Linked DNA regions of Homo sapiens. The protein of the gene in region 1 purifies or fractionates together with the protein of each later gene. This does not show direct contact. Each region holds a gene or a part of one and is shown in the gene's direction. Other genes may lie near its edges.

The links.
Region 2: the proteins of ZDHHC11 (region 1) and THADA purify together in Homo sapiens (co-immunoprecipitation; one large-scale study listed by IntAct). This does not show direct contact.
Region 3: the proteins of ZDHHC11 (region 1) and NRP1 purify together in Homo sapiens (co-immunoprecipitation; one large-scale study listed by IntAct). This does not show direct contact.
Region 4: the proteins of ZDHHC11 (region 1) and PTPRG purify together in Homo sapiens (co-immunoprecipitation; one large-scale study listed by IntAct). This does not show direct contact.
Region 5: the proteins of ZDHHC11 (region 1) and NDUFAF1 purify together in Homo sapiens (co-immunoprecipitation; one large-scale study listed by IntAct). This does not show direct contact.
Region 6: the proteins of ZDHHC11 (region 1) and ACAD9 purify together in Homo sapiens (co-immunoprecipitation; one large-scale study listed by IntAct). This does not show direct contact.
Region 7: the proteins of ZDHHC11 (region 1) and SLC38A10 purify together in Homo sapiens (co-immunoprecipitation; one large-scale study listed by IntAct). This does not show direct contact.

The regions. Positions count from the first base shown.
Region 1 is NC_000005.10:816,080-820,632, reverse strand, and holds part of ZDHHC11 (palmitoyltransferase ZDHHC11), read left to right. Parts: intron 1-1,020; coding exon 1,021-1,108; intron 1,109-3,341; exon of another isoform or gene 3,342-4,306; intron 4,307-4,553. UniProt on the Homo sapiens protein: Endoplasmic reticulum-localized palmitoyltransferase that could catalyze the addition of palmitate onto various protein substrates and be involved in a variety of cellular processes.
Region 2 is NC_000002.12:43,295,292-43,299,844, reverse strand, and holds part of THADA (tRNA (32-2'-O)-methyltransferase regulator THADA), read left to right. Parts: intron 1-4,553. UniProt on the Homo sapiens protein: Together with methyltransferase FTSJ1, methylates the 2'-O-ribose of nucleotides at position 32 of the anticodon loop of substrate tRNAs.
Region 3 is NC_000010.11:33,215,719-33,220,271, reverse strand, and holds part of NRP1 (neuropilin-1 isoform a precursor), read left to right. Parts: intron 1-4,553. UniProt on the Homo sapiens protein: Cell-surface receptor involved in the development of the cardiovascular system, in angiogenesis, in the formation of certain neuronal circuits and in organogenesis outside the nervous system. Mediates the chemorepulsant activity of semaphorins.
Region 4 is NC_000003.12:61,568,071-61,572,623, forward strand, and holds part of PTPRG (receptor-type tyrosine-protein phosphatase gamma isoform 1 precursor), read left to right. Parts: intron 1-4,553.
Region 5 is NC_000015.10:41,389,267-41,393,141, reverse strand, and holds part of NDUFAF1 (complex I intermediate-associated protein 30, mitochondrial precursor), read left to right. Parts: intron 1-3,875. UniProt on the Homo sapiens protein: As part of the MCIA complex, involved in the assembly of the mitochondrial complex I.
Region 6 is NC_000003.12:128,903,297-128,907,849, forward strand, and holds part of ACAD9 (complex I assembly factor ACAD9, mitochondrial), read left to right. Parts: intron 1-765; coding exon 766-836; intron 837-1,089; coding exon 1,090-1,209; intron 1,210-2,824; coding exon 2,825-2,953; intron 2,954-4,553. UniProt on the Homo sapiens protein: As part of the MCIA complex, primarily participates in the assembly of the mitochondrial complex I and therefore plays a role in oxidative phosphorylation.
Region 7 is NC_000017.11:81,288,497-81,293,049, reverse strand, and holds part of SLC38A10 (solute carrier family 38 member 10), read left to right. Parts: intron 1-3,241; coding exon 3,242-3,359; coding exon of another isoform or gene 3,360-3,380; intron 3,381-4,553. UniProt on the Homo sapiens protein: Facilitates bidirectional transport of amino acids. May act as a glutamate sensor that regulates glutamate-glutamine cycle and mTOR signaling in the brain. The transport mechanism remains to be elucidated.

The DNA.
Region 1 (4,553 bases):
TGGAAGTCAGAGTCTCCACCATGGCCAGAAAGTGGAGTGCAGCCCCCCTTCCCCAGGTGTGCACCAGCCCCACCCCTCACAGACACCGGCAGGGGCTCAGCCCACAGCTTCCTGGGCAGAAGAGACAGGGCCTGTGTCCCTGGAAATGTCACCATCCCTTACTCCACAGCCAGAGGGCAAAGGGCTTCTTAGATCAGGACAAGGCCCTGTTGGTAATGATCACAACTGCAGAGAATTCATGCAGACTTTTGCTTAGTTCAGCAGTCAAGGTGTATGGCTTACTGGGAAAAGTTCATTCCCTTTCAAACGACCCATTAAGTCTTCTATGAAATTGCTTTTCTTAGAAGGGTAATTGGCAAAACTACTGTGTAGATCCGAAGCACTTGAATATCACTTCAAACTATCATGTAACTATGGTCTTTTAAGTAAAATACAAAAATGCTTTCTCTGTGATGCATTTTGGGCAAGATTAATAGAAATGTAACTATAACCGGAATTACAAACTTTCTCTCTAAAACCAAAACAAAAGGAAAAACTAAAGTTGTGTAATGATTGCCAAATCGACATGTATATGTTGTAGAAAATTAGGGAATGGCAAGGATTTCCAGGTAAAAATGAAGGTCACCTGACCCACCTGACACCCCTGTGACATGTATGATGTGCTGTTTTATAAAATTACAGTCACCTTGTAGCCCAGTGTAGACCAGCTACACTAACGGAGGACACTACCTGTCTAAGGCACTGGTCTAGGGTGGGGCTCGCAGACTTCAGGGAGGTACTGCTTTACAGAATCCAAGTGGGAAGGAGTCCTGGTCCTTTACACGAGAAGCTCCTTCTGTTTCCCACTGTGCAGTAACCCGGGAGCACTCACACAACCTCCCGGGAGCTGCTGGTCTCCAGTTTCTGAGACACATGGGCCCCACTGCAGTGGTGCTTACAGGACACACTGTAGCCTCCAGTGCCATCCTGAGCGCCCTACAAAACTGTGGTGTGTTTCTTTCCTTCTGTTTGCCCCACCAGAGCCAAGGCCAGGAACTCCCGGCTGATTTGCAGGCGCCTGTGTCAGTTCTCCACTCGTGTACACCCAGACGGGGGCTCGATGGCACAGGTAAGTTGCAATCACTGGCGCTGTCCCCGAGGACAGGGCCATGTGCAGAATGTGTGGTCTGAGGTCCCCCAAGCTGAGGTTAAGGTAGTATTCAAAAGGGAAGCACTCTGTGTCCAAGGGTGCTGCTCACATGGGAATGATGGTGGGTGGAGCACAGAAGAGAGATGGAGTGAGAGGCAGGAATGCTTCCCAGCTGTGGGTGAGAGAGACAGACGGGTACCAAAGTGGGAGCCCTCAGCACTGCAGTGCCACCATCAGGCTGCGGTGATGGGCAGATGCCCAGGGCAGGCTCTGAAGTGCCCAGAACATGCAGTGAGGGACAGTGCCGTGATAAAGGATGGAGGGAAATTGGTAGCCATGGCAGAAGCTGTGTGCTGTGGTTTTAAAATAAAATGCTTAGGAAAGACTGTGTGTAGGAGACAGATGGGAATAGAGATGTGTTTGTGGTCACATGTGCACGTATGTGTTGGTGTGGTTTTGTGTGTGGTGTGTGGTCATGTATATGTGTGTGAATGGTGTGTGTTTGTTACATGGATACATGGACTCTGTGTCCGTCCTTCACGGGAAAAGCCCTGTGTGGCTACCGGCTTTAGGGCCACATATTTCTGTTCCTGCTCTGGGGTCAGCTTCCAGCGGTTTCTACTGGGTTGTTATTTATTTTTTGGAGATGGGATCTCACTCTGTCACCCAGCATGGATTATAGTGGTGGGATAATGGCTCACTGCAGCCTCCACCTCCTGGGCTCAAGCGATCTTCCCACCTCAGCCTCCCGAGTAGCTGAAACTACAGGCGTGTGCCACCACACCCAGCCAATTTATTTCTTATTTCTTAAGAGATGGGGTCTCACTCTGTTGCCCGTGCTGGTTTGGAACTTCTGGTCTCAAGCAAGCCTCTGGCCTCAGCCTCCCATAGCAGGGCGATTACAGGCATGAGCCACTGTACTAGGCTGTGGGGGAATCCATCTGAGAAGGCTTTGTGAGGCGGCCAGCTTCTGGAGGTTACAGGTGTCTTCTCCTTCCCTGTTGGGGCAGGGCCGCCTCACCACACTTCCCCAGGACTTCAGGGAACAGGCTCTTGAGACTTGGAAATGAAAAGGGATCAGCCAGCCTGGAGGAACAGCGACGCTGGCGTCCAAGCCTTGCCCCTTCCCTGCACTTCCAGCAAAGATATGGAGACACTCAGTGGAAACCGATTGGGCCCCCAGCCTGCCCCGCCCAGACTCACCCACCAACGTTCCCTCACTCCATGTGGCACACAGGCTCACAGGATTTTCTCTGCCTGCAATCGTCCACATGCACACCTGCTGCCGGGGTGCAATTGTGAGTCCCCTCGGTCTCTCTGCAGCATCTCGGTGTAGATGACGATTTACAGTCACCCTTGTGTGAAGCCACATGAGGCCTGGTCTGAAGCAGAGAAGATCCGCTCAGCATCACGTTGGATCCCAAGCCCGCGTCTCCGTGGGCTCCAGGACAATCCTATGAAAATAACACCGTCGGTTCATTGTTCACATCGGGGAGGAGAATTCCATCTGAAAATGCACGTGACTTCACTGACACCCGCGTCCGTGGCACAGCCCTGTGCTGAGCTCCACAGACCTACAGTCCATCGCCTCCCCTTCGAGAGGGCCCAGGGCTGCAGACAGCGTTGTCCATAGAAGACACCCTGACTCGATGAATGGAACAAACTGGAAACTCCAGAAACAAGCCCTTCTTTATATTTCTGGTGTTTGGCTTAAATGGAAGGTGCCAAGGTGAGGCAATGGGGAGACATGGAAGGGTGTGTAATGAGTGTGCTGCAGCAGCTGCATAACCACATGCCAAACACACACACACAGCTCAGTCCCACCTAGAAAGCAGTGCACAATCCATCAGAGACCTCATATTTAGAGAGGAAAGTTTAACCTCCCTAGAAAACTCACAGAATATGTTTTTTTAATACTAAATATACAGTTGTCCTCTTAAATTGGTTAAGAGCACAAAACGTAACAGGCAGAAGGTCTGTTTCAAACAAATTAAAAAGCTATGTTTTTTCAAGTGTGTTTTTAAAGTTTTCCCCAAGTGAGATATATACATACCCACAAAAATAGTGTGTGAAGGAAAGCTGTCATACGGAAGGAGTTGTGTCCTGAATTCTTCAAGGAAACACATATGGAAATATGAATTGATAGAGACAGCAACACATTAATAATTTTTTAAAATTGAATCTTAAAATGCTGCATGGCACAAAGCTATAGTATAAAGTATTGATAAGTACAAAGGGAAAAGTCTGTACAGCTTTTAGCAAAAATGCTTTTGCAGAAAAGCAAATTAAAATAATGCAAACAGCATACCGAGGTGGCCACAGCTTGACCTCAGAGCTACAACTTCTCATATCTGTGTCAGAAAATCCTATGTATCCAGAATAGAGTAAAATTTCAGGACAAAACATGGACTTTTTAACAGTTCTTACTTTACCCATTTTAAGTTATTTTTATCTCCCCTACCCCCCAGGGCAGTAATTCAGCAAGATCCAGCAGAAAGAGGGCTATTTGATGTTTCTTCCCATGGGGAGAGTGTCAGGGAGCCTGGACATTTCAGGCTCATGCATCCATGACCAGTCTCCCACTGGGGTCAGAAAAATTCAGCCATAGACTTGGTGAACTTGGCTTCCCGCTGCTGCTTTGTTCTCCTGCTGATGAAGGTCAGCTTCAGGGTGTATCTGCCATCAAACCTTTTAAGACTGGAGGGCAGCTCCCAAATAGCATCAGAATCCACTCCTGTAGGCTCTTTTCTGTGGGCCACGAGAAAGATGGTCTTCTCCTTAGATGAGGTCTAAATAGTCAGAATTCCCATCATCACAAAGCCAAAACGGGCTTGGACTCTGGAAAGGGATGCATATAATCCCAAATCACAGCCACTATGGCAAAGCAACAGGAGATTGTACAGATGGTGAGGTGACCGTCAATTAGACAAAAATTCTCCACGTATTTGTATTTTTCCAGAAGTATCTTTTTGGCAGAATCATCCAGAGTTTTTCACAGCTGATCCATCCCACTTGTCCGTTTTTCCAGGCATATCACTTATCTTCGACTTATCCACATGCCGCTACGGCCACTGCCTGTCCCGCAGCTGGAACCCCCGCCAACCCCACCACCGCCTGCGCTACCGCCCCCCTCCCGCCCGTGCAGCTGCTGCCGCCATCTGTCCGCCTCTGAGTCTCCCTCCAGAGAATATCTTTGTGATCTTCTGTTAAGCAATGTCTTCTTTGATAGATCCCAAAAACATTATTTCCGAAAAAAGAAGAATAAATGTGACTTTAAGCATTTAAAAATTTCCCTTCAATTGACACCATTAAGAGAATGAAAATATAAGCCACAGACTGAAATAAAATATTTTCAAGTCATATACTTGTATCCAGAATATTTAAAGAATTTTCAAAACTCAGCAATAAGAAAACTCTGTTTTCA
Region 2 (4,553 bases), on another chromosome or scaffold:
ATGTTGGTCAGGCTGGTCTCAAGCTCCTGACCTTGGGTGATCTGCCCACCTTGGCCTCCCAAAGTGCTGGGATTACAGGCATGAGCCACTGTGCCCAGCCCAAATTTCAGCTTTTATTAGTAACAATTTTAGGACACTAAACATTTTGTGATTTTTATAGGTTTTTGTTGGTGTTGTTGTTTTTGAGACAGAGTCTCTTCTGTTGCTCAGGCTGGAGTGCAGCAGCCCTATCTTGGCTCACTGCAAACTCCGCCTCTTGGGTTCAAGCGATTCTCCTCCCTCAGCCTCCTGAGTAGCTGGGATTACAGGTGCCCACCATCACGCCCAGCTAATTTTTGTATTTTTTTTAGTAGAGACGGGGTTTCACCATGTTGGCCAGGTTGGTCTCAAACTCCTGACCTCAGGTGATCTGCCCGCCTCGGCCTCCCAAAGTGCTGGGATTACAGGCGTGAGCCACTGCGCCCGGCTAGATTTTTATAGTTATTATTGTGTACTTGTTCTTTGTCCTCCCATTGGTCTTAAAGCTCTTTGAAGCAGATCTTTTTCTTTCTCAGCTCTGCATCTCTGTATCTCCCAAAGTACCTAATGCAGTTAAGCTTCCTTTATCCAAAATGCTTGGGACCAAACATGTTTCAGATTTCAGGTTTGGGTTTTTTTTTTTTAAATATTTGCATATATAATGAGACATCTTGGGGATGGAACCCAAGTCTAAACACAGAATTCATTTATGTTTCATACATACCTTATACACATAACCGGAAGGTGATCTTATTTTTCCCTTGGGGACACTGAATAAACTGCATCTGTGTGTTGACTGCATTAGGTCAGGTGTGGAATTTTCCACTTATGGCACCATTTCAACACGTAAAAAGTTTCCGATCTTAGAGCATTTTGGATTTCAGATTTTCAGATTAGAGATGCTCAACCTGTATATGCTTAGGAAATACTTAAAGAGTTAATACTCAAGTCACAGGCAGTGTAGGTCAAGAAGTCCCAAAGGAATGTCTACCTTCATTACACTCATCAGCATGCTTGCTCCCCATCTCCTCCTTCTTTGGGGTAGTGCCTTCATTCCCTGGCTTCCTGGTGATATCATCCCTTCTTAAGGCCCCAGACCAGAAAAATGGGTCTGGGTGTCCAACTCTCAAGTCCAGCAGACTATACTTACACTCAGCCTGGACTATATCCAGAACAGCCCAGATAGTTCTTCCTGTTGTTAATTACAATTTTTTTTTTTTAATTTTTTTTTTATTGATAATTCTTGGGTGTTTCTCACAGAGGGGGATTTGGCAGGGTCATGGGACAACAGTGGAGGGAAGGTCAGCAGATAAACAAGTGAACAAAGGTCTCTGGTTTTCCTAGGCAGAGGACCCTGCGGCCTTCCGCAGTGTTTGTGTCCCTGATTACTTGAGATTAGGGAGTGGTGATGACTCTTAACGAGCATGCTGCCTTCAAGCATCTGTTTAACAAAGCACATCTTGCACCGCCCTTAATCCATTTAACCCTGAGTGGACACAGCACATGTTTCAGAGAGCACAGGGTTGGGGGTAAGGTCACAGATCAACAGGATCCCAAGGCAGAGGAATTTTTCTTAGTGCAGAACAAAATGAAAAGTCTCCCATGTCTACTTCTTTCTACACAGACACGGCAACCATCCGATTTCTCAATCTTTTCCCCACCTTTCCCGCCTTTCTATTCCACAAAGCCGCCATTGTCATCCTGGCCCGTTCTCAATGAGCTGTTGGGCACACCTCCCAGACGGGGTGGTGGCCGGGCAGAGGGGCTCCTCACTTCCCAGTAGGGGCGGCCGGGGCGGCTGGCCGGGCCGGGGGGCTGACCCCCCCCACACTCCCTCCCGGACGGGGCGGCTGGCCGGGCGGGGGGCTGACCCCCCCACCTCCCTCCCGGATGGCGGCTGGCCGGGCAGAGGGGCTCCTCACTTCCCAGTAGGGGCGGCCGGGCAGAGGCGCCCCTCACCTCCCGGACGGGGCGGCTGGCCGGGCGGGGGGGCTGATCCCCCCCCACCTCCCTCCCGGACGGGGCGGCTGGCCGGGCGGGGGGCCGACCCCCCCACCTCCCTCCCGGACGGGGCGGCTGGCCGGGCGGGGGGCCGACCCCCCCACCTCCCTCCCGGACGGGGTGGCTGGCCGGGCTGAGGGGCTCCTCACTTCCCAGTAGGGGTGGCTGGGCAGAGGCGCCCCTCACCTCCCGGACGGGGGGGCTGGCCGGGCGGGGGGCTGACCCCCCCACCTCCCTCCCGGACGGCACGGCTGGCCAGGCGGGGGGCTGACCCCCCCACCTCCCTCCCGGACGGCACGGCTGGCCGGGCGGGGGGGCTGACCGCCCACCTCCCTCCCGGATGGGGCGGCTGGCCGGGCGGGGGGCTGACCCCCCCCCACCTCCCTCCCGGACGGGGTGGCTGCCGGGCGGAGACGCTCCTCACTTCCCAGATGGGGTGGCTGCCGGGCAGAGAGGCTCCTCACTTCTCAGACGGGGCAGCTGCCGGGCGGAGGGGCTCCTCACTTCTCAGACGGGGTGGTTGCCAGGCAGAGGGTCTCCTCACTTCTCAGACGGGGTGGCCGGGCAGAGACGCTCCTCACCTCCCAGACGGGGTCTCGGCCGGGCAGAGGCGCTCCTCACATCCCAGATGGGGCGGCGGGGCAGAGGCGCTCCCCACATCTCAGACGATGGGCGGCCGGGCAGAGACGCTCCTCACTTCCTAGATGTGATGGCGGCTGGGAAGAGGCGCTCCTCACTTCCTAGATGGGATGGCGGCCGGGCGGAGACGCTCCTCACTTTCCAGACTGGGCAGCCAGGCAGAGGGGCTCCTCACATCCCAGACGATGGGCGGCCAGGCAGAGACACTCCTCACTTCCCAGACGGGGTGGCGGCCGGGCAGAGGCTGCAATCTCGGCACTTTGGGAGGCCAAGGCAGGCGGCTGCTCCTTGCCCTCGGGCCCCGCGGGGCCCGTCCGCTCCTCCAGCCGCTGCCTCCCGGGCGGCCGTTAATTACAATTTTAAGAGCAGATTTCTGAGCCATATTTCTGACTGTGCCAAATAAATGAAATTCCTTTTGAATGTAATGCTGTCCTCTAGCAGCAGTGGGTAGGAAGGATAGGGAAATGGTACCTGGAGATGATAGTACTGTGCTCTTATTATTATTAGATTGTTATGAGATTCGGTTTTTAGACATTGAAACAGAGATGACACAGAGGTTGAAGATCCCAGCTGCCCAGGGTTTCCCCCACTGCTTTATAAAGATACTGCCTGGCTGGGCTCAGTGGCTCCCACCTGTAATCCCAGCACTTTGGGAGGCCGAGGCGGGCAGATCACCTGAGGTCAGGAGTTTGAGACCAGCCTGGGCAACATGGTGAAACCCTGTCTCTACTAAAAATACAAAAATTAGCTGGGTGTGGTGGCGTGTGCCTGTATTTCCAGCTACTCTGGAGGCTGAGACAGGAGAATTACTTGTACCGGGGAGGCGAAGGTTGCAGTGAGCCAATATTGTGCCACTGCACTCCAGCCTGGGTGACCGAGGGAGATTCTGTCTCCAAAAAAATAAAAAAATAAAAAGATGCCTCCTGGTGAGCTGGGAATTCTGCAGTGTCTGAGTTAAGAGTAGCGGTATGGCCGGGCACGGTGGCTCACGCTGTAATCCCAGCACTTTGGGAGGCTGAGGCGAGCAGATCACGAGGTCAGGAGTTCGAAACCAGCCTGTCCAGCATGGCAAAACCCTGTCTCTACTAAATATACAAAAATTAGCCAGGCGTGGTGGCATGCTCCTGTAATCCCAGCTACTCAGGAGGCTGAGGCAGGAGAATCACTTGAACCCTGGAGGTGGAGGTTGCAGTGAGCCGAGATCGCACCACTGCACTCCTGCCTGGGCGACAGAGCGAGACTCCATCTCAAAAAAAAAAAAAAAAAAACAGTAGAGGTTTGTCTGCAGCCCCAGATGGTGGCCTCCCTGGGGTCCCATCATGTTGGAGCCCAAGTCCAGTCCCCATTTTGCCCCCTGTGACAGACTTTGAAACAATTTGATGTGTTACATAAATACTCTATATTTTTAAATCTCGAATTATTGCAAGTCTATGCAAATTTTCAATTTCAAATAAATTTTTCTGTTACCTGAATGTTTTACATATGCATTATGTTTATGTTAGTTTTCTAGAAGTCAGCAGAGTTCTCTGAGTTATAATGAGATGATAAATATAAACGGTGTTTTATTAGCTATAAATGCGTATCACTTAAATGCTGTCTGGTAAGCCAATCCAGGATAAACTTGTTAACATCTTGGGTACAGTTGTCAGGATTTATCAGAGAATGCTATGAATATAATATCTAAATTTTGGCAAGGCATTTGGTGAAGTCTGTCATAAGTTCTTGTAGATAAAACTTCATGGACAGAATGATACAATTAAGAGGATTCATAAGTGGGGGATGACTCAAACCGAAGAGGGCTAGTTAATGAATTAGTGAGAGCCTGGAAGAGCGTTTGAGGCAAGGGCCAGCAGGGAGCCTGCTCACCAAAGGCCTCCACCCTCCAGCTTGCCCAC
Region 3 (4,553 bases), on another chromosome or scaffold:
TTGGAAGGAAAAAAAATCACTTTGGCAATATTCCATGAAATTACAAGCAATTTTGAGAAGAGCTAATGAACAGGAAAAACTATACTTGTTTATAGTAGAGTTCAGCTTGGAAAGTAAAAACCAACATCTGATTTTTTAATGAAAAGTTTATTTATTTCCATCCCACAGACAGACTTGTTTATTATTTTAGGACCTAAGATTTAGAAAGTTCAAGGCCTTAGAGGCAGGAATTGGGTGGAGAAGGGTTTGAAAGAAGAAAGGACATTGAAAAGTTAGATATAACCTTGGCTTTATTTTTGATCAGCAGTTAGATGACAGAAAGTTCTAGGTCATTTTCAGAGCATTACAGATTTGTGCTGTTATTCATAAATTTGTAGAAACAAGGCCATTTGAGGTTTGGGTGGAAATTTCTGGCCCATTTCTTCAACCTTATCTCATGTCATTGTATTTAAAAAAAATGAGGTAAACTTCATAAAGACTCCAAACATGTTAGTCAAAATTCTGAATTTCCAGGCTCTTAGAGATTTATGTCACATCCTTTTAGTTGAATACAATTTTTTTTATACCTAAACTGTCCTTTTTAATTTTCACAAGGATTTCCCTGAGAGGTGATGCTAGGAATGTGAGCAAAGAAGGTAAATAATTTGTTCAATTTTTAAAAATAGTTAAATGATCTAGTTATGTAAACTTAGATGTCTAAAATAGCATATCCTAATATTTTCATACATAATTAAGTAGCTATTTTTCAAATAAGGTGCTTCCTTTCAGTTCCTAGTGCTAGTCTCTTAATCATGGTCTCCACTATACTTTTAAATATTTTCTCTCTAGTAAAATGTCTCTAGTCTCCAAATAATTGCCAGAAGCAGGTTTTTGGAGAGGCTAACACGTTACGATAGTCACATGGACAGAAGGCAGGCAGACATATCCAGGCTTGACTGTGGACTGTCCACTTAGTGTATGCATGACGGACCATGGATAAGACATTGAGACTCACTCTGATCTCCGTTTTCTGGTCTGTGAGGATCACCTTAATGCAACTATAATGAGGAGTCAATGAGAGGAAATTTGGAACACCCCTGGCTTAAACTAAGTGCTCACTAAATGGTACCCGTTAGACTAAAATAGTACATGGCACTCAATATATTGAACCTAGCATATGCCCCAGCAAGCAGAGCCTCTAATAAGACAGTAATTTCAAGTTTTTCTTCTTGATTATCAGAAGCAGATAATTTTCATTTTCTTGAAATGAAAATCAAAGGTCCCCTTGAGTAGAGATTAATGAAAGGAGGACTACAGTATTCCTGCTGGACTAGATGGTCCAGGAGAGCAGGGGACCTGTTTGCCTCATTTTCTGTTGTGTCCTGTATGCCTGGAACATAACAAATGCTTGGTGGTTACTTTTGAATGAAGGAAGTGCAGTTTTATGCACGCCTTCTGAGAAACAAGCGGCTGGACCTCAAATTTTCACCCTGCTGAGTAGTCACAATTCAATCTGGATTTTGTTTAAGCCTACCTAATGAAAGGTTACTGCTTGAACACATCACTTGGCTTCCAAAGCCACTAAAGCCCCAAGTTTTACCCTAATTTTTTGATTCAGAAATTATTTTTTAGAAATATAGTAATCCTGGACTGGGCGCAGTGGCTCACTCCTGTAATCCCAGCACTTTGGGAGGCCGAGGCAGGTGGATCACGAGGTCAGGAGATTGAGACCATCCTGGCTAACACAGTGAAACCCCATCTCTACTAAAAATACAAAAAATTACCCAGGTGTGGTGGCATGCACTTGTAGTCCCAGCTACTCAGAAGGCTGAGGCAGGAGAATGGCGTGAACCCAGGAGGCAGAGCTTGCAGTGAGCCGAGATTGTGCCACTGGCCACTGCACTCCAGCCTGGGCAACAGAGCAAGATTCCATCTCAAAAAAAAAAAAAAGAAAGAAAAAAGAAATATAGTAATCCTGGAAAATTCAGAGTTTGTCACCATATAGAGATATAAAGAAAATAAGATTGGAACAAACCATTCTGCTTTATAGGTGATTGATGAAGGGCATTTTCATTATTTTGACAAAGTAGGCTTCATCATTTTGGCAGAGATGGAAATCACGTTGGGCAATGGCTGCTTAACACACTCTGAACTCTGCTATCTTCTGTTATTAACCAGAAGTCTGTTACCCAGCGCTTCAACACATATTCATGTGCTCCTAAGTCAATCAGAATTCACAGTGATGATCTCAGACACCATAATATCCAGAGGTACTTTCTGAGTCATCAAGGAGAGATTAAATTATGCTCATTCAGGGTCTCCCATCGAATGCAGTTATTACTTTCTCATTCGTTGGAAATTGGTTAACTGGATATTTGATTTACCAGTATACCTCAGTTTTTCCATTAAAGCTGAGTACAGAGATTTACTGTAAAATAATATCACTGAAAATAACGACCTCAATCCTCCATTACAAAACTCATTTCTCCCTTCCATCCTGAAGTGGTCTTAAGCTTTCCAAACAAGGCTGCCAAGTGAAATACAAAATGTCCAGTTAAATTTGACGCAGACAAACAAGACATAATTTTTCAGAATAAGTATGTCCCATGCAATATTTGAGACATATGTGTACTAAAAAATTATTCATTATTTCTCTGAATTCTAATTTCACTGGGCATCTTGTTTCTTGTTTTGTTGTTTATTTGCTAAATCTGGCAACACTATTTCCAAAGGGTTTGACCTGCACCGGGCTGACCTGTACCAGCCTGCTATGAAGGGACAGAGTTAAACGCTAGCATCTCATTCAAACCTTGAATTAATTGTTAATGTAATTTTTCTGCAAATTATTGTTAAAAGTGAGTCACATAGTTTTCAGTCAAAGGTAAATCAAGTTGCCTCTTCATTTTTTTTTTTTTAATGAGGCAGCTATATGGAAGGAATAACAGTCTCACTTTGCACCATGGATATGTTGGCTAAATGGGGACAGGGCATCACTAAGTCTATGAATACAGAAACTGTGCCCCAGCCGAGTCTGCATTAGAGAAAGGGCATTAATCTGGTGACGGTTCTGCTCTCCTTACAGTATTCAAGTTAATTATGTTTGCCTCCAAATGGTAACATCTGGTCCCCATTACCAGCTAAACATTGCCTTTCTAAAAGCTTGTTTGGAATCAGGCAGGTATGAACACCGTGGCCAAAAAATGGCACTCTATTTTTAACACTACAGTTTCATAGTCCCTTAGTAAAATTGTTTTTGTAAATCTTTTTTTAATCCCGACTGAGTATATTCTTGGTTTCCAGATCCCAGCCTGGAGCAAATACTGTGGTTAAGTTACAGGAAAGGGCAATTGAGAAAATGACAGCTGCCTTTCATTGTATTAAGTTGATTCATTCAACAAATATTTGTTGAGCAAATACTATGTATAAAACAGGGCATGAAGAGTCATATAAAACAGAAAAATATGACTTAGTTCGTGTCCTCAAAGAAGTTAAAATCTGGGGAGGCAGAAAGCAGCATTCCAAAGAACTAAATGTGCTCATCAGCATTTGAGGGCTGGATATGGTGGCTCAAGCCTGTGACCCCAGCACTTTGGGAGGCCAAAATGGTAAGATCTCTTGACCCCAGTAGTTTGAGAGCAGCCTGGGCAACATAGCGAGACCAAAAAAAAAAAAATTGCCAATCATGGTAGCATCCACATGTAGTCCTAGCTACTCAGGAGACTGAGGTGGGAGGATTGCTTGAGGCCAAGAGTTCAAGGCTGCAGTGAGCCATGATCACACCACTCCACTCCAGCCTGGGTGACAGAGTGAGACCCTGTCTCTAAAAATAAAAATTAAAAAAAAGGCCGGGGTGTAGAGGGGCCAGGCGCCGTGGCTCACACCTGTAATCCCAGCACTTTGGGAGGCCGAGGCAGGCATCACGAGGTCAGGAGATCGAGACCATCCTGGCTAACACTGTGAAACCCCTCTCTACTAAAAATACAAAAAATAAGCCGGGCGTGGTGGCAGGCGCCTGGAGTCCTAGCTACTCGGGAGGCTGAGGCAGGAGAATGGCGTGAACCCGGGAGGTGGAGCTTGCAGTGAGCCAAGATCGCCCCACTGCACTCCAGCCTGGGAGACAGAGCGAGACTCCTTCTCAAAAAAAAAAAAAAAGAAAGAAAGAAAGAAGGGAAATGCAGATAAAATGGTGTGAAGAGGCCCAGAAATGGAAAACTGTGTCCAGTTGCAGAGAACAGAAAAACTGAGTAAACGATGTGGCATTTGAAAACAGGTCAGGATTTTAAGCAGTTCAGATAATGGAAAAGGGTAACATGACAGGGAATTCCTTGTGGAGGGAACAGAAAGAAAGCTCCCAAACTCCCAGAAGTAAGGAAGTTCTTCATGCCAATTGGCACTGGTTAAAGGAGTGAATGGGGAGAGGCCTTGCAAGGACATGACATGGAAGGCCTGCATGCCTGACTGAAAATGACGTGCGTAATTTCTAGACAAGAAGGCACTGAATGTCTGAGTAAAGAAACGACATGATCTGGACCATAGAACTCATGTGGAAAGTATCTGAGTAATGAATTCTTAAG
Region 4 (4,553 bases), on another chromosome or scaffold:
TAAAAAATCAACTATACTTGTGTAAAAAAGAGTTATCGGACTTGGCTTTGACTTATTTTTGGTATTGTGTTTATGTGGAGTTGTAACCAACAAAATCAATAAAAAGGATAAGTATATTCCAGAAACCTGTATTTACGTCTCCTTGCTTTTCCCTACAATTTGCCTGTTGCAAATTTCTAAGAACATGGGATTGTTAATGTCTCTTTAAAAGATGTCTTAAAGTAATACAGGTAAATTTCACTGTCAGGAAAGTCTGTGATGATTGAGATGTAGAACAGATAAATTTGTGGTTAACTCAGTATGAAAAGGATTGTTAGGTATAAGTGATGGCTGTGCAAGATTGCTTTAAGTAGCTAGAGGGCTTCTTGAGTGATTGTCCCCTTCTATTGGGACAACTATAATTGGAGGGACCATTTCACCTGGTATCATTTGTGGCAAGATATTTGGTGTTTTGACAGAAAAATATATTCTGTGTGAGATAGCTTGCTGGATCTATGCAGGCCTAAGGTTTTTATGATTGCAGCCCTTAATACAACTGTAAAAAAAATTTTTTTTTTGGCCTGGCATGGTGGCTCATGCCTGTAATTCCAGCATTTTGGGAGGCCCAGGCGGACGGAACATGAGGTCAAGAGATTGAGACCATCCTGGCCAATATAGTGAAACCCTGTCTCTTCTAAAAATACAAAAATTAGCTGGGCATGGTGGTGCACACCTGTAGTCCCAGCTACTCGGGAGGCTGAGGCGGGAGAATTGCTTGAACCCAGGAGGCAGAGGTTGCAGTGAGTTGAGATTGCACCACTGCACTGCAGCCTGTGCGACAGAGCAAGACTCCGTCTCAAAAAAAAAAAAAAAGATTCGTTTTAAGTGCTTCCAGGGATAGGAAGAGGAATGACAGCTGATGAGGTTTCTATATGTGCCTGGTTTCTGTTTTGGAAGCCTCCCAAACGGAATTGGGTAGTGTTTCACTTGTACTTGTGGTGGGTGTGGGGATGGAGGTAACTTACACATTGAATGAAAACTTCATGTGTCAGCCAGTTGATGAGAGTTGCCATACTATTTTGTCAGCATGTAGCAGGAAGAAAAATCTTTTAGGAGCCTGGAACTTGTTAATGCTTTTCTATTTGTTTTCTAAACTAGGTGGCTATTGAGAGTTATACAGAACATAGCAAAATAGGTAAGAATATGGCCTCTGGAGCCAGCCTACCTGTGCCATTGCTAGCCGTGCTACCTTAGAAAAGTTACATACCCTCTCTGTGCCTCATTATTTTTTTCTTCCTCTGTGAAATGGGGTGGTGATAGAAGCCTAACTCCTAAAGTCTTTGTGAGGCTTGAATGAGAATGTATATAAGGACTTAGTGCTGTGCATGGTAAACAGTAAGTGCTCAATAACCATTTTTTTAAATCAAAAGTTTTATATGTTTATTTTTATAGAGACCGGGTCTCTCCCTGTGTTGCCCAGGCTGGTCTTAAACTCCTGACCTCAAGTGATCCTCCTACCTCAACTTCCCAAAGTGCTAGGATTACAGGCCTGAGCCATTGCTCCTGGCCACCGTTTTTAAGTGTTCTTAAGAGATTTGGATAGGAGTGTATGGAAAGCGGACGGTGGAACTGAAAAGGACAACTGTATGTATAGACAACTTTTTGAAAAATTGTATAAACATACGTGATGGGTTTTTGTATCTGTCTTTGCTGTTGAGGGTGAGGAGGAGTAGGGATCAGCATGGGGACATTCTATGTAAGATTACTAACAGGTTACATTTTGAGGTTTAAATAAATGAGAAAGTCCTCATGAAGTCTGAGATATCACCTTGCCCACATTGCAAAGGAGGTCTCTGCTTTCTCAGCTTAAAGTGGGAAAAATGCTTTCTGTGGGCTTAAAATGTGTCTCATAAGTCTTCCAAATCCCTGTGTAGAAAGAGTCGCCTAGTCCTGCACCCTCAGATGTTAATTCCTCTTCTCAGGCTTTATGGACAGTGTGGTAATGGAGGGAAATAGGTTACTCATTACTGGGATTCAATTTGGCTCCACTGATGGGAAGCAAACAGTAGTTGGGTGTTTGCTTTTATTTTACACTTGTGTGACACTTGAACACATTGATGTCCTGTCTCTATATGTTCATGGATTCAGAGCTACAGAGCATATGAGAGAGAACCAAACACTGATGCACACCTCGTACCCTCTAATCTTTTCTTTTTTTTTTTTGCAGACTGAAATCAGCATGATATTTTTCTGGCCAAACAACAAAATGTGATTTTAAACTACTCAGTTTAGCTATTTTTGGGGAGTAGCAAAGTGACACAGTTGGCTGCTGAATTCTAGCAACTAAAAAAGAAAAAAATGAAAGCATAGTTCATGGAATATGTAACACTTCCATGTAAGAAAATAGGACAACTGGTCTTATTTTTGGGTCTGTGATACTGTCTTTCTAAGTGAGTGAAGCAGGGTGTTGTATAATGCAGTGGATATACTTTTGAGGAATTCATACTAGTTACAATATACATCTAAGAGGTATTTGAGTTTTCATAGCATTGCTGCCTCATGAATCCTGCAGTGCACTTAAATCAGATCTGTTCATTAATTGGGAATGATTTGGATAAGGGGACACAGCCATAAGCAATTGACCAAGCATAAAAGCATAGTCCAGATTAGTGAGGAAATATTACTGACTTTTTAAGGTTGTCTCGAGAACTTTTTAAGAATTGTCAAAAGGATTTATTTACAAAGCGGTGGTTATTTATAAATGAGTTCTACCTGTTTTTAAAATGACACTTTTCCAGAAGCGTTTCTCTTCAGTAAGTGTGGAGGCTTAGCTCTGTCTGTGGGTAGCTAAGGGTGGTTACCCAACATCTTACGGAAGTGGGGTTGGGTGGCGCTGGGGCTCTGGGAGTTTCAGATATACATATCTCTTATTCAGAATCCACACCAAAACCACAGAGACCTGGGTTGAAATTCTTAGTTCATTACAGCATTTACCTTGGGCAAATGGGCCTCACCCTTTTAATCTATAAAATGGGAATAGTAATTATAATAGCCTACGCTTACCAAGCACATGTGATCTATGCCCCGTGCTTGAGCATTTTATATGCTTTTAATCATCCCTGGAAGTATGAACCATGATTATTTCCACTGTAGGGTTAGGAAACTAAAGTTGAAGAAGGTAGGTCCAAGGTCACCGGGGTAGCAAGGCGCGGGGAGCGGTGGGGGGCGGTGACTGTAATATGTTTCTCTAATCATTGCTCAGGATTTTTTTTAAATTTTATTTCAGACCATTTGCTTTTTGAAGAGAGTATGGAAACTATTTTTCCTAATTGCACAGGAGGGCCAATTGAAAGATCTAGCTTTTTATGTATTTCACCCTGTTACTTTTCCCATATAAGCAAGTGCCATGAACACTGGGTGGAATAAAGGTGTCTTCCTGTACTTGCTACAATTAAATAAGTAAGTAATGCAATTAGTATAGGATTTTATTTGGTTACGTTGAAGAGATGACCTTTCAGCAAATTACTTTAGCTTCTGAATAAGCTGATAATAACTGTGGATAGAGTCTGAATTTGTTGGTGGTGAGTTTTTTTTTGACACTACTCCTCTTCCAAATTACCTAAATTGATTTGCTTTGTAATTTGAGAACTTTTGTTTGGGGCTTTGAATATGGTTACTTTGTAGTAATGCGGTATTTTTACTGTCCCATGTATATCATCTAAGTGTGGGCAGCAGGCTCTGAATCATAACTTCAGGAAAGGTCTGAGGGTGTTGTGTTTGGCAAGAAATGGCTTGGATTCTGCATTTTTCCTCTGGAGTTTGGAACTAGCCATGGGAGCCAGCCAAACCAGCTGTGGGATCTTGGGCAAGACCCTCAATTTCTTTCGGGTTGTTTGCCTCACCCTTCACTAAATGGCTTCTAAAATTTTTTTCTGGAATTTTAGAGATTGTTGATTCCAGGCTAGGCAGTTTGGAAGGGTTATGGTCTTTTTGCAGTATGCAAGTCAGATGCCCAGGACACACTGTGATTTGTGAGGTGCACTTGTTGACTTTTTCCTGTGAGGGTTTGCTTCCTAAGGCGTTGAGAACCCTTCCATTATCTTGCTAACCTTGCTACGGATTATCCTGAGGGAGTAGCAGACAAGGTGGTGAGTGGAACTTGGTTAATGGAATGCCTATAAGCTATGTTTTTGTTTGTTTGTTTGTTTTTTAAACATGAAACCTTATTTCTTCTGGAGACCAAGTTAAAAAAAATATGGAGATTTGCTCATGTCAACAAAGTTATGTGTATAGCGTTTAAAACTATCTAATGTGATTTATGATTGGAGTGGTGGGGGCAGACGTCTTTGTCTAAAATGAGAAACGAAGCTCGTTCTGGATCTTGTGTCTGGAAAGGAGAAATGGAGAAAGGACAGGCATTTATTTGGGTTATCTGGAATTCTACAGATGTTCTTTTGGCCATACTGCATTTAAAAGAAAAAATAAATTAAAAATTAAGAATGCATTAAAAATCAGTCATTTTGCATTCATGCCATCAACAAGTTTCTGGGTGCCTAGAGCATGCCAGGTGCTGT
Region 5 (3,875 bases), on another chromosome or scaffold:
AAAAAAAAAAAAAAAAAAAACTCAACAAGAAAGTCCCCATTTTGCTCATGTCATATACTTGAGGGTCATCCTGAATTCTTCTCCTTTGCCCCACATCCAGTCTATTAGCGAGTCCTGTCACCTCTGCTTCCAAAATACACTCAGCAGCTGACCATTTCTAGCCATCTCTTCTACTCCCACCCTGGTCCAGGTGTTTGGATTATTGCAGCAGCTTCATTATTGATTTCCCTGTTTGTCTTCTTGCCCCACTAAAATCCTGGCTCCACAGCAGCCAGAGTTATCTTTCTGAAGCATAGTTCAGATGACATCATTTACATGCTTGTAAGCATGTAAATGTACCTCCTAAGCATGTAAGCTGTATTAGTCTGTTCTCGTGCTGCTGCTATGAAGAAATACCTGAGACTAGGTAATTAATAAAGGAAAGAGGTTTAATTGACTCACAGTTCTGCAGGGCTGGGGAGGCCTTAGGTAACTTATAAAATCATGGCAGAAGGGGAAGTAAACACATCCTCCTTCACATGGTGGCAGGAAAGAGAATGAGAGCCGAATGAAGGGGTAATCTCCTTATAAAACCATCAGATCTTGTGAGAACTCACTGTCACTAGAACAGTATGGGGGAAACCACACCCATGGTTCAGTTAACTTCACCTGGTCCCTCCCTTGACACATGGGGATTACTACAATTCAAGATGAGATTTTGGGTGGGGAGACAGCCAAACCATATCAGGACCCTTCAGTGGTTTCCCATTACAATTCGAATAAAGTCCAGGCTGGGCTAGGTGGCTCATGCTTTTAATCCCAGCACTTTGGGAGGCTGAGATGGGCAGATCACTTGAGGTCAGGAGTTTGAGACCAGCCTGGTCTACATGGTGAAATCTTGTGTCTACTAAAAATACAAAAAATTAGCAGCAGGTGGTGGCACACGCCTGTAGTCCCAGCTCCTCAGGAGGCTGAGGCAGGAGAATCGCTTGAACCTGAGAAGTGGAAGTTGCAGTGAGCCAAGATCGCGCCACTGTACTCCACCCTGGGTGACAGAGTAAGACTCCATCTCAAGAAAAAAAAAAAAAAAAAAAAAGAATAAAGTCCAAACTCCTGCACATGGCCTATGGGCCTACAATATCGGACCCCTGTCTTCATCTTCCATCTCTCCTCCTGTCTTCATCTTCCATCTCTCCTCCTACCTCCTTCCTCCACACCAGCCCCTTTTCTGTCAGATTTAACAACCTCATTTCCATCTCAGAGCTTTGCACTTAGTGTTGCTCTGCTGTAATGCTCTGCCCCCATGTCTTCACCTGCTTTCTCTTTCCTGTCATTCACCTCTCGGCTCAAAAGTTGCCTCAGAGAGGCCTTTCCTGATTCCTGTAACTAAAGTTGGACCCTCTAATCCAGTTATTTCAACACCACCATCCTATAACTTTCTTCATAGAACTTATCACTAACTAAAATTACTTTGTTCATTCATTCATCTGTTTATTGTCACTCTACTGCCTTCCCTGGAACATAAATTATATAAATTCTTTTTTTTTTTTTTTTTAAGATGGAGTCTCACTCTTACTGCCCAGGCTGGAGTGCAGTGGTGTGATTCCAGCTTACGGCAACCTTTGCCTTCCAGGTTCAAGAGATCCTCCTGCTGGGACTACAGGCGTGTACCACAACGCCCGGCTAATTTTTGTATTTTTAGGAGAGATGGGGTTTCATTCACCAAGTTGGCCAGGCTGGTTTCGAACTCCTGACATCAAGTGATCCACCCGACTCGCCTCCCAAGGTATTGGGATTATAGGCGTTTGAGCCACCACACCTGGCCCTAAATTCTGTAAATTCTGTGAGAGCAGAGATCTTGCTTATATTGTTCCTACCAGTTTCCCCTGTACCTAGAATTTTGTCCTAGTGCCTAGCACAAAATAAGCACTCAATACATACATATATATGTAGTAATACAGATATATAACACAAATTATATATACTTGTATTTAAGTAATATATATATAATGAATTATTATACAAAATAACTACTTCATTATAAAAACAATTTGGGAAGTACAGAAAAAAATCTTGTACTACCACTATCCAGTGATAAAATACTATTTTTATTTTATTTTATTTTTATTTTTGTAAGACAGAGTCTCGCACTGTCGCCCAGGCTGGACTGCAGTGGCGGGATCTCGGCTCACTGCAAGCTCTGCCTTCCAGGTTCACACCATTCTGCCTCAGCCTCCCGAGTAGCTGGGACTGCAGGTGCCCACCACCACGCCCAGCTAATTTTTTGTATTTTTAGTAGAGACAGGGTTTCACCGTGTTAGCCAGGATGGTCTTGAACTCCTGGCCTCATGATCCGCCCACCTCGGCCTCCCAAAGTGCTGGGATTACAGGCATGAGCCACCATACCCAGCAGATAAAATACTATTTTTTTTTTTTTTGAGACAGAGTCTGGCTCTGTTGCCCATGCTGGAGTGCAGTGGCACGATCTCTGCTCACTGCAAGCTCCGCCTCCCGGGTTCACGCCATTCTCCTGCCTCAGCCTCCTGAGTAGCTGGGACTACAGGCACCTGCCACTACACCTGGCTAATTTTTTGTATTTTTAGTAGAGACGGGGTTTCGCCGTGTTAGCCAGAATGGTCTTGATCTCCTGACCTCGTGATCCGCCTGCCTTGGCCTCCCAAAGTGCTGGGATTACAGGCGTGAGCCACCGCGCCTGGCACAAAAATACTATTTTTAATATGTATCTTCTACACTTTTCTAGTCACACTTTTCCCTTCCAGTGGTGTTTTATAACATATATACAGTATTTTCACTGAACTATTGTTTACAACTTTCTCTTCAAATATATTTCTACATCATTTTTAATGTCTGCATGATATTATATAAGTAGACAACAATTTTGGCTGGGTCCAGTGGCTCACATCTGTAATCCTAGCACTTTGGGAGGCTAAGGCAGTGAATCATTTGAAGCTAGGAGTCTAAGACAAGCCTGAGCAACATGGCAAAACCCTGTCTCTACAAAAATACAAAAATTAGCCCAGTGTGGTGGCATGTGCCTTTAGTCCCACCTACTCAGGAGGCTGAGGTGGGAGGATTGCTTGAGCCTGGGAGGTCAAGGCTGCAGTGAGCTGAGATCACCCTACTGCATGCACTTCAGCCTGGGTGACAGAGTAAGACCCTGTCTCAAAAAAAAAAATTTTTTTTTCTTAACTTGTTCTTCATTATGTACATGTAGATTTAGATTGTTTTCAGAGTTTTCTACTGTCGGAACAAACTCTGAGGTAAACATCCTTAACTATTTTCATAGGCTATATTCCTAGAGATAAAATTACTGGAATAACTATTAATATGTATAATTCATTTTTATTTATGTTCATTAAAATTTATTTACTTATTTGAGACAGGGTCTCTCTTCTGTTGTCCATGCTGGAGTGCAGCATGGGCTCGCTGTAGCCCCAACCTCCCAGCCTCAGGTGATCCTCCCACCTTAGCCTCCTGAATAGCCAGGACTACAAGGATGCACCACCATGGCTGGATAAGTTTTTTGTTTTTTTACTAGAGTCTTGGTTTCACCGTGTTTCCCAGGCTGGTCTTGAACTCCTGGGCTCAGTTGATCCTATTGTGTTGGCCTCCCAAAGTGCTGGGATTACAGGCATGCACAACCAGGCCCAGCCATTTTCTTCCTTTGTTAAACTCAAAATATAAATAAAATTAGCATACTCTGTACCTGTTTTTTGTGTTTTTAAAATTTAGGAATATATCCTGGAGAGCTTCTGTATAATTATTTAGGCAGGGTGTGGTGGTTCATACCTGTAGGCCAAGGTTGGCAGATTACTTGAGCTCAGGAGTTTAAGACCAGCCTGGCTAACATGGTGAAACACCGTCTCTACCAAAAA
Region 6 (4,553 bases), on another chromosome or scaffold:
AGAGATGAGAAGACAGAGACTCAGAGAGGGCAAGCGATTTGTTCCAGACTGTGCTCCTGGACCCAAAATGAAAGCTGTCAGGCTCCAGGCTCAGGGCTCTTCTTACTCAGGCACAAGGCCTCTGGGGAGCTCCTCTGCTGGGGCTCTGAGTGGGGCTCGGCCCTCTACACCTCCTGAGTGCACCACACCTGGGAGAGCCTGTGGAGGACATGGCTATGGCGGGGCGGGGGTGCTTCTGCCTGGGAGAGGCGCCATGTCACTCTTGGGCCCTTAGAGCTCAGCACTTTGTCACAGCCACACGCCTGGAAGCCCCAGCCTGAGTATTCAAGCCAGGCGGCCCCACCTGCTTTGGTCACTGCACGGGGTGTGAGCCTGCACCACCTCTGTCTGGGGCCTCTGTGCCTGGCTTTGTGCGAGGCGCCCTCCCCCTTCCACCTGGTTGCATCTTCACAGCGACTCTGAGGTGGGGGTGGTGTTCAGGGAGGTGTCGCACTCGGCCTGAGGCACAGCCTGTAAGAACCATTGCCAGGATTCAAGTCTGTATCTGATGCCAAACTCTGTGTGTGGGTGCCATGAGGAGGGGTGGTTCTCCTCTGACCCACGGGTGCTGGCAAGTGGGGGTGCCAGCTTCTGGGGTATTTGACCTCAGCAGACACGCTTCTCACAGTGCCCACCTGTGGGAAGGGTAAGGATGATGGCCATAGGAAATCATGTTTGAACCACAGAAATATTCCAGTTCATTCTAATAACTCTGCTCTTCCTCAGAAATGACTGCTGAGTACGCCTGCACAAGGAAACAGTTTAACAAGAGGCTCAGTGAATTTGGATTGATTCAGGTACCAATGGTTGAGTACTGTATTTGTGCATTTCACTGTGTGACATGAACGGTGTGTTCTTTTGATGTCTCTGTACTGGTGACTTCTGTGGTGATTTGGGAAGAAGACTAGTTAAGGCTTTATTTGACACGGGTCACTGGGCTTGCTTCTCTTGGGCATTGAGGCTTCTGACTTAATTACTTTCTCTCCTGTTTCACAGATTTGGCTCTCAGCACATGCAAATTGTTTCTTGTGTTTTTTCTGAACACTCCAGGAGAAATTTGCACTGATGGCTCAGAAGGCTTACGTCATGGAGAGTATGACCTACCTCACAGCAGGGATGCTGGACCAACCTGGCTTTCCCGACTGCTCCATCGAGGCAGCCATGGTGAAGGTAACCCTGGCATAGCCAGAGAGCTGGCGCTGGAGGGAGGCTTGGGAAATCTCCCTCACTGTGACCTTTCAAGCCCATGCTGTTGCCTGTCATCTTCCTCCTGTCATTGATCCAGTATTTATGATGCACTTGCCCTGTGTAGCACTCCAGGGATAGGCAGGCAGCGGGGAGCAGCAGTAGGGAAGTGTCCAGTGGGCCAGTGGATCAGTAGTTTATAGCAGAAGGAGACCGTTATGATAATATCCTTTTAGAGTAATAACATTGCATCTGGCTTGTGTGAGAAAGACTTCTTTTTTCCTTAGTTTATGGCCTTCCTACTTTCTGGTATCAAAACTTTATCTTAAAAACTAAGCATATGGCAGGGCGCGGTGGCTCACACCTGTAATCCCAGCACTTTGGGGGGCCGAGGTGGATGGATCACCTGAGGTCTGGAGTTCGAGACCAGCCTGGCCAACATGGTAAAACCCCATCTCTACTAAAAACACAAAAAATTAGCCGGGCATAGTGGCGGGCACCTGTAACCCCAGCTACTTGGGAAGCTGAGGCAAGAGAATCACTTGAACCCGGTGGGGGCGGAGGTTGCAGTGAGCCGAGGTTGTGCCATTGCACACCAGCCTAGGCAACAAGAGCAAAACTCCATCTCAAAAAAAAACAAAAAACAAAAAACATGTATGAGCCTGGGCAACATGGCGAAACCCCATCTCTACAAAAAATACAAAAATTAGCTGGCATGGTGGCACACGCCTATAGTCCCTGCTACCTGGGAGGCTGAGGTGGGAAGAGCATCTTATTTGGTTAAGGTAGATACTAGAATTTGCTTTTGTTTTGTTGAGGGTGGAGGGTGTCATTTTTTAGCTGTAATAAAAAAGATGGCCACACTTGGGGGGACCCTACTTTGTGCCCCCCACAATTGTTTTTAAGCTGGTCTCTGGAATTGAGCTCTTGAGAGAAATAGTGAGAGGTATGGCAGCTTACAGAAGCAAACATCCTGGTGTCGGCAGGAGAGTCTACCTAAAAGGTTGGGATCCTGAAGTGGCAAGGTCCCTAAAAAAATAAAAAATTAAAAACAAAAAGGCTGGGCATCTTGGACCGTGTTTGAGTCTTTTCTAGGTGCAGTCTGTGTACTGGGTGCATTTGCATGTGTTTTATCATCTCGTTTTCTTGTCACCCTTGAACAGTGACCACAGACATTAGTTTGCTGTAGGCCAGCCTCTTCCAGATGCTAAGCCTAGGGCTAAACATGGCAGTATGTTTGCCCCCAAGGCACTTATAGTGTGCACAGACAGAAAGAAATCACGGCCGCTGGGGCTTGGCAGGAACAGGTCAGGTTTTCTCGGGAAGGGGAGATCTTAGGTGGGTTTTAAAGGAACAGGAGCTCAGCCAGGTGCAGATAGGGTGAAGGCAGGCCCAGAGGTACAGAAGGTCATGGTGGGGTAGGGAACACAAGCTGGCCAGTGTGGTCACGGAAGGCAAAGGACTTGACCACATCACCCCTCAAGTTCCTCCCTGGCCGATCTCCTCCCCAAGCCCGTGTGCCTCCCATGCCTCCCCAGCCACCCAGCTCCCTGCAGCGTAGGTCCTCCTTTTGGAAAGGATTCAGTGTGACACCCCACAGGTGTTCAGCTCCGAGGCCGCCTGGCAGTGTGTGAGTGAGGCGCTGCAGATCCTCGGGGGCTTGGGCTACACAAGGGACTATCCGTACGAGCGCATACTGCGTGACACCCGCATCCTCCTCATCTTCGAGGTGAGTGGCCCCGCCACCAGCTAAGCTGTGCTCCACCCCCACCCTGCCTGGTCCTAAAGATGCTGCTCAGGGCCTCGCAGAGGCCCCCGCAGCCCAGGGCTGGGTCGCATGCTCTCAGGGGCTCTCCTAGCCCTGGCACGTCTCCTTCCCGACTGCTGCCCTCCATGAAGTCACAAGCCTGAGGAGTCAGTTCAGTTAGCATGTGCCAGGTGGCAGGGGAGGGAACTGGGGCCACAGAGATGACTTCGGATGCTGTGTTCTGATTGTGCAGCAGGGCCGACCAAGGGAGATGACAGAGTGTAAAGAGGCAGGGAGCGGGCATCCTCCAGAGGCAGCCAGAGTTTTGTGAAGCATGCGCTCCTGGCCCCTAGGGGCAGAAAGAAAGGGCTTCAACCAGGGCCGGGTGGAGGGCAGTTTGTCCCTAAGGGCAGGGTAATAGAGCGCGCCAGGCCCAGATGGGACTGATCTGCTGGCACAAGGTGAATGAAGAGAGAGTGAAGGGCTTTCTGGGAGCAGCAGTCAGCCCTGCTAGGTGGGCTGGGGCAGGCAGTGGGTTTGGGGGTGTTGAAGAAGGTATATGGGAAGGCTAAAAAAGTAGCCAGACTGTGGAGGACCTTGATTGACAGCAGAGGAATTTGGAAGCCACAAAACGTCTTTAAGCAGGGCATTATTTGGTTGTATCTGTGTTGTGGGAAATGCCCCCAGGGGCTCAGCAAGTGCTGGACATGTGGACGGGGCTCATGTGGAGAGTGAGTTGCAGGGATGAGGCCGGAGACCAGGGGCTCTCCTGCTGGGAGGGAGGGGCTGGACCTAAGAGAGCACAGCAGGATGAGTGGGATATGATGGTGGGCATGGGTATACAGGAGGCAGGCCTGAGACAGGGAGAGGGTTTGGGCCTGAGCAGCAGGTCTGGTGATGAGAGGCATCATCAGCCTCTGGGAGTGTAGTCTTGTCTCCTGGGCCGTCCTGCCCAGTGGGAGGCCTCCTTGGCTGCTTTTGTTCCTGGCCTACCCATTGGGTTCCAGCCATCTCCACTGTTGCAGTGGACATACGGGGCAAGGGCCAGCCTGAGGGCACTGGAGTGGTCTCAGCCCTGCAAAGGGTCTTCTCCAAAGGCCCTTCCCTTAGCCTGGGAGGGTTGGGGTTCTCCAGGGCTGGGGTGGTCAGCAGGGTTCAGGAAGCCCTCAAGGCCTTGGAAGAACACAGGGCTCTCGATGTAGGGTGAGAGCTCCTGTCTGGAGCCTGCTCGGAGCTGGGTGGTCCTGCCAGGAGGCCCCTGCAGTCCCCCCTTTTCCTGTAGGGAGTCCTGCTGTCCGTGATGTCAGCCTGACTGCAGGGGACAGTCCTCAGTCCCTAGTGCTGGCTGTGTAGCCTGGGTCAGGCCCCTGCACCTGACACACAGTACCATTGTGCAGAGTGGGCAGAAGCCCACTGGCCTCTCACTGATCAGAATCATGGGTTGGGGGAGTGGGGAGCATGTGGCCCTCTGGGTGTGTTGACACCTGGCACTGAGGAGGTTCTAGCTGCCACTCAGCAATTTCTGGCTTCCGTGAGGAATCTGGCCTCCACCTGGAGCCAGCAATGTCTGTCTGGCACTGGC
Region 7 (4,553 bases), on another chromosome or scaffold:
CTGGGATTACAGGCATGTGCCACCACGCCGGCTAATTTATTTATTTATTTATTTATTTATTTGTATTTAGTAGAGACAGGGTTTCCCCATGTTGGTCAGGCTGGTCTCGAACTCCTGATCTCAGGTGATCCACCCACCTCGGCCTCCCAAAGTGCTAGGATTACAGGCGTGAGCCACCGTGCCTGGCCCCAAATGCTGTCATCTTTGATGCCTGTCGGTGAAGTGCCACCGTGGAAGGGGCTCTGGTTTAGACACCTGTGAAAGTACATCTTAGGGCCCAGACGATCCAGCTATCTCGAGCCTTGGACCACCTGCCATGTGGTGGACATTAGGCCCCTGCCAGAGCATGTGCTGATTAGCCGGGCATCTGCACAGACCTGTCAGGAAGTGAAGGACTAGAGACGTCCTTCTGAGTCCTGAGGGCTGCCCAGAGGGAGGCCCAGTTGCTCTGATCTGGCCGCAGCGTCTCCTCCACGGCAGCCTTCTTGGACTGGGGCGCAGGGAGACGCCAGCAGGCGATTTGGGGATGTGTGTGTTTAGTGTTTGGCAGCCTTGGCATTGAAAAACTTTGGATTAGTGTTTTTTTTTTTGTTTTAGTAGTTTTGATATATTTATATATATACATAGCTGGGCGTGTTGGCTCACGCCTGTAATCCCAGCACTTTTGGAGGCTGAGGAGGGTGGATCACGAGGTCAGGAGTTCAAGACCAGCCTGGCCAAGATGATAAAACCCCATCTCTACTAAAAATACAGAAATTAGCTGTGCGCGATGTCAGGCGCCTGTAGTCCCAGCTACTAGGGAGTCTGAGGCAAGAGAATCGCTTGAACCCGGGAGTGGAGCTTGCAGTGAGCCAAGATCGCGCCACTGCACTCCAGCCTGGGCAACAGAGTGAGACTCTGTCTCAAACAAACAAAAATATATATCTATATCTATATCTAGATAGATATAGATATAGATCTATATAGATTATATATATAATAAACATTGAAGTTTGACATACAAAAATGTGTACACACTTCTTTAGATGTGCTGTTGATGAATTTTCATATGACGAGCAAACCCGTGTGACTAGCTCCCAAATTAAGGAGCGTACTCTGTGGCCGTGGCGGCCTACCCGGGGCACACTGCTGACCCCTAGTGTGCCACGGTGGTGCTGCCTGGTTTGAACTGAGGTGGGTGGGTCCTGCTGTGCAGGTGTCTAGTGCGAGTGTCTGGCTTGCGTTCTGGTGTCCGCTGCACCGCCATGCGTGTCTGTGTGTAGTTTACCCCTGTGAGGCATTTACGGTGTCTCCTATTGGGAGCTCTTGTGATGCCCTGAGGAGTTGGACAGGCGTTGGCAGGGGGTGGTTTCTGCTGGGTGCGTGCCTGTGTGGAGTGGCCGGGCCCCAGGGTGCGTGTGCTCCGCTCTGGAGCTGCCATGTGGGTGCAGTGGTGCACATGCCGGCCCGCATCCCCGGTAGCATTGGGTATCGTGTCTTTTCCGCTGGAGCCATTCTGATGAGTGCTTGGTGATATCTCATGAGTTTTTGGTATTAATAGACTTACTTTTTTTTTTTTTTTTTGAGATGGAGTCTTACTCTGTCACCCAGGCTGGGGTGCAATGGTTCAATCTCAGCTCACTGCAACCTCCACCTCCCAGATTCAAGCAAGTCTCCTGCCTCAGCCTCCTAAGTAACTGGGATTACAGGCGCCCACCACCAAGCCTGGCTAATTTTTTGTGTGTGTTTTCAGTAGAGGTGGGGGTCTCACCATGTTGGCCAGGCTGGTCTCGAACTCCTGACCTCAAATGATCCACCTGCCTCGGCCTCCCAAAGTGCTGGGATGACAGTTGTGAGCCAGTGTGCCCAGCCGGACTTATGTGTTTGAGCAGTTTTAAGTCTACAGAACAACAGACTGGAAAGTGCAGCGCCCCCGCCCCCCTCACCGTCCAGCTAGGTTCACGTGACTGACGTCTCGCACTAGTGTGGCGGTCCTTGTGTTTTAAGTGTCACCTCGATGGAGGTAGTGGACATGCAGGAAGATTCACTCTCTTTTTATTTTCTCGAGGCGGAGTCTTGCTCGGTCGCCAGGCTGGAGTGCAGTGGCGCAATCTCGGCTCAACTGCAACCTCTGACTCCCTGGTTCAAGTGATTCTCCTGCCTCAGCCTCCCAAGTAGCTGGGATTACAGGCACACACCACCATGCTCAGCTAATTTTTGTATTTTTAGTAGAGATGGGATTTCACCATGTTGGCCAGGAGGGTCTCGATCTCCTGACCTCGTGATCTGCCCACCTCGGCCTCCCAAAGTGCTGGGATTACAGGTGTGAGCCACCGTGCCCGGCTGATTGACTCTTTTTAGGGTGCAGGTCATGGGCTTGCTGTGTAACCACCACAGTCAAACAGAACACACAGCTTCATCCCCCAGAGGGTCCCCATGTGCCCCTTTGTCATCAGCCAAATCTCCACACCCCCAGCCCCTGGCAACACTGAGCTGTTCCCTGGCCTAAAAGTTTGCCTTTTCTGAGTTTCCTGTAAACAGAATGACACTGTTTGTAGCATTCAGAGTCCAGCTTCCTCTGCTCAGCATGGTGCGTTTGAGTCCCATCCGTGTCATGGTGGGTGTCAGTAGTCATCCCTTTTTCCTGCTGACTAATATTCCCTTATTCGAATGGACCACAGTTTGTATCCATTCGCTTGTTGAAGGACATTTGGGTTGTTTTTCCATTTTTGGGTTGTGGATAAACCTGCTGTAAACATTGGCATACAGGTTTTTCATGAACACGTTTTCATTCCTCTTGGTAAGTGAATACCTAGGGGTGCAGTTAATCCCCAGGTCACACAGTAAGTGTCTATTTAACTTATGAGAACGGGGAAAATGGCATTTTTAATCTCTTCCAGAATGTGTTCATTACTTGTAGCTGTGGACTTAAGTGGCTAAAGATGGTGCATGTAGGGTGTGTGCAGAGAACAAGGGGGTATTAGTTGGCAGCACCCCGCTGTCCATGAAGACTTGAGGTGGGGACTGGGAAGGAGATGGCACCCCTGTGCTCTGCGCATACAGCTTCATCCCTGGACAAGGCGCGCGGCCACCACAGCAAGGAAATGGCCCTTTCAGTGCTAGGAAGTGTCGCGTTCGGCAGGAGACTGGGATGGAGCGGGGCCTGGGGGTGAAGAGGGTCCTCATGAGCCGCGTGTGTGGGGTGAGGGCCTCTGGGGAGCACCTGCTGCTGTGAACATGTGTTCCTGTCTCCACCCTGCAGTGCGGCATCGTCCTGGGGGCGCTGCTCTTGGTCTTCTGCTCATGGATGACGCACCAGTCGTGCATGTTCTTGGTGAAGTCGGCCAGCCTGAGCAAGCGGAGGACCTACGCCGGCCTGGGTGAGGCGCCCTCTCCACAAGGTGGCTCTGGACCTGGGGCGGGGGCCTTATTCCATTTATTTATTTATTTATTTACTCTACTTGATTCTTCAAGAATTCCTTGGATAGCAGGGTTTTTTTTATTTTAAAATGTAATGCTGCAAAAAAATGAGCCGGGTGTGGTTGCACGTGCCTGTCGTCCCAGCTACTATTTGGGAGGCTGAGGTGGGAGGATCACCTGAGCCTAGGAGTCTGAGGTGGCAGTGAGCTGTGATCACGCCATTGTATTCCAGCCTGGGTGACAGAGCGAGACCCTGTCTCAAAAGAATTAAAAATCAAATTAAAAAAAAATGCAGTTAAAAAAAAAACCTGCCGGGCGTGGTGGCTCGTGCCTGTAATCCCAGCACTTTGGCAGGCCGAGGCAGGCGGATTATTTGAGGTCAGGAGTTCGAGACGAGCCTGGACAACATGGTGAAACCCCATCTCTACCAGAAATACAAAAAATTAGCCAGACATGGTGGCAGGCATCTGTAATCCTAGCTACTCAGGAGGCTGAGGCCAGAGAATCTCTTGAACCCGATAGGTGGAGGCTGCAGTGAGCTGAGATCACGCCACTGCACTCGAGCCTTGGTGCCAGAGTGAGACTCTGTCTGGAAAAAAAAAGAAAAACCTGTTATAATCACATGCTTCAAAATTGGAGTGACACAGAAGGGTATGAGGCGCCAGGTCTCCCTGTCACCATGCCCTCCTGCCCGCTCCCATGCAGGTCCACACAAGCTTCCTCTTCTAAACTCAGACCAAGACAGCCGTCCTCACCGTGCTGGTGCAGACCTGCTCTCTCTGTGTCTCTCCTGGACACCAGATGCCTTCCTGCGGAGCTGCCTGCAGAGAGCCTTGCTGTTCTCCCCAACTCGGAATTCCATGGAGGAAGCTCCTCAGGCCTGGGCTGTTGCTGGAGTTCAGTGGCTCCTCTCCCAGTGGCTGTGTCCTTCCCCTGATGCTGTTGGTTGCAGTTTTGTTTCCCTTAGTTCTTTCTTGCTTTAATGCTGTTTCAGCCAGGAGAGAAGGCTGCGCTTTCTGCTTCATTTCAGTGTGGAATATTTTCTACGTTGTTTGTCTTCGAGGGCGCCATCCCTCACCTTCCCGTCTGCCCACAGGCTGTGTGGCCCGCGCTGTCTCCCTGCCCGCCACAGGCTCGGCACCTCTCGGCTCCAC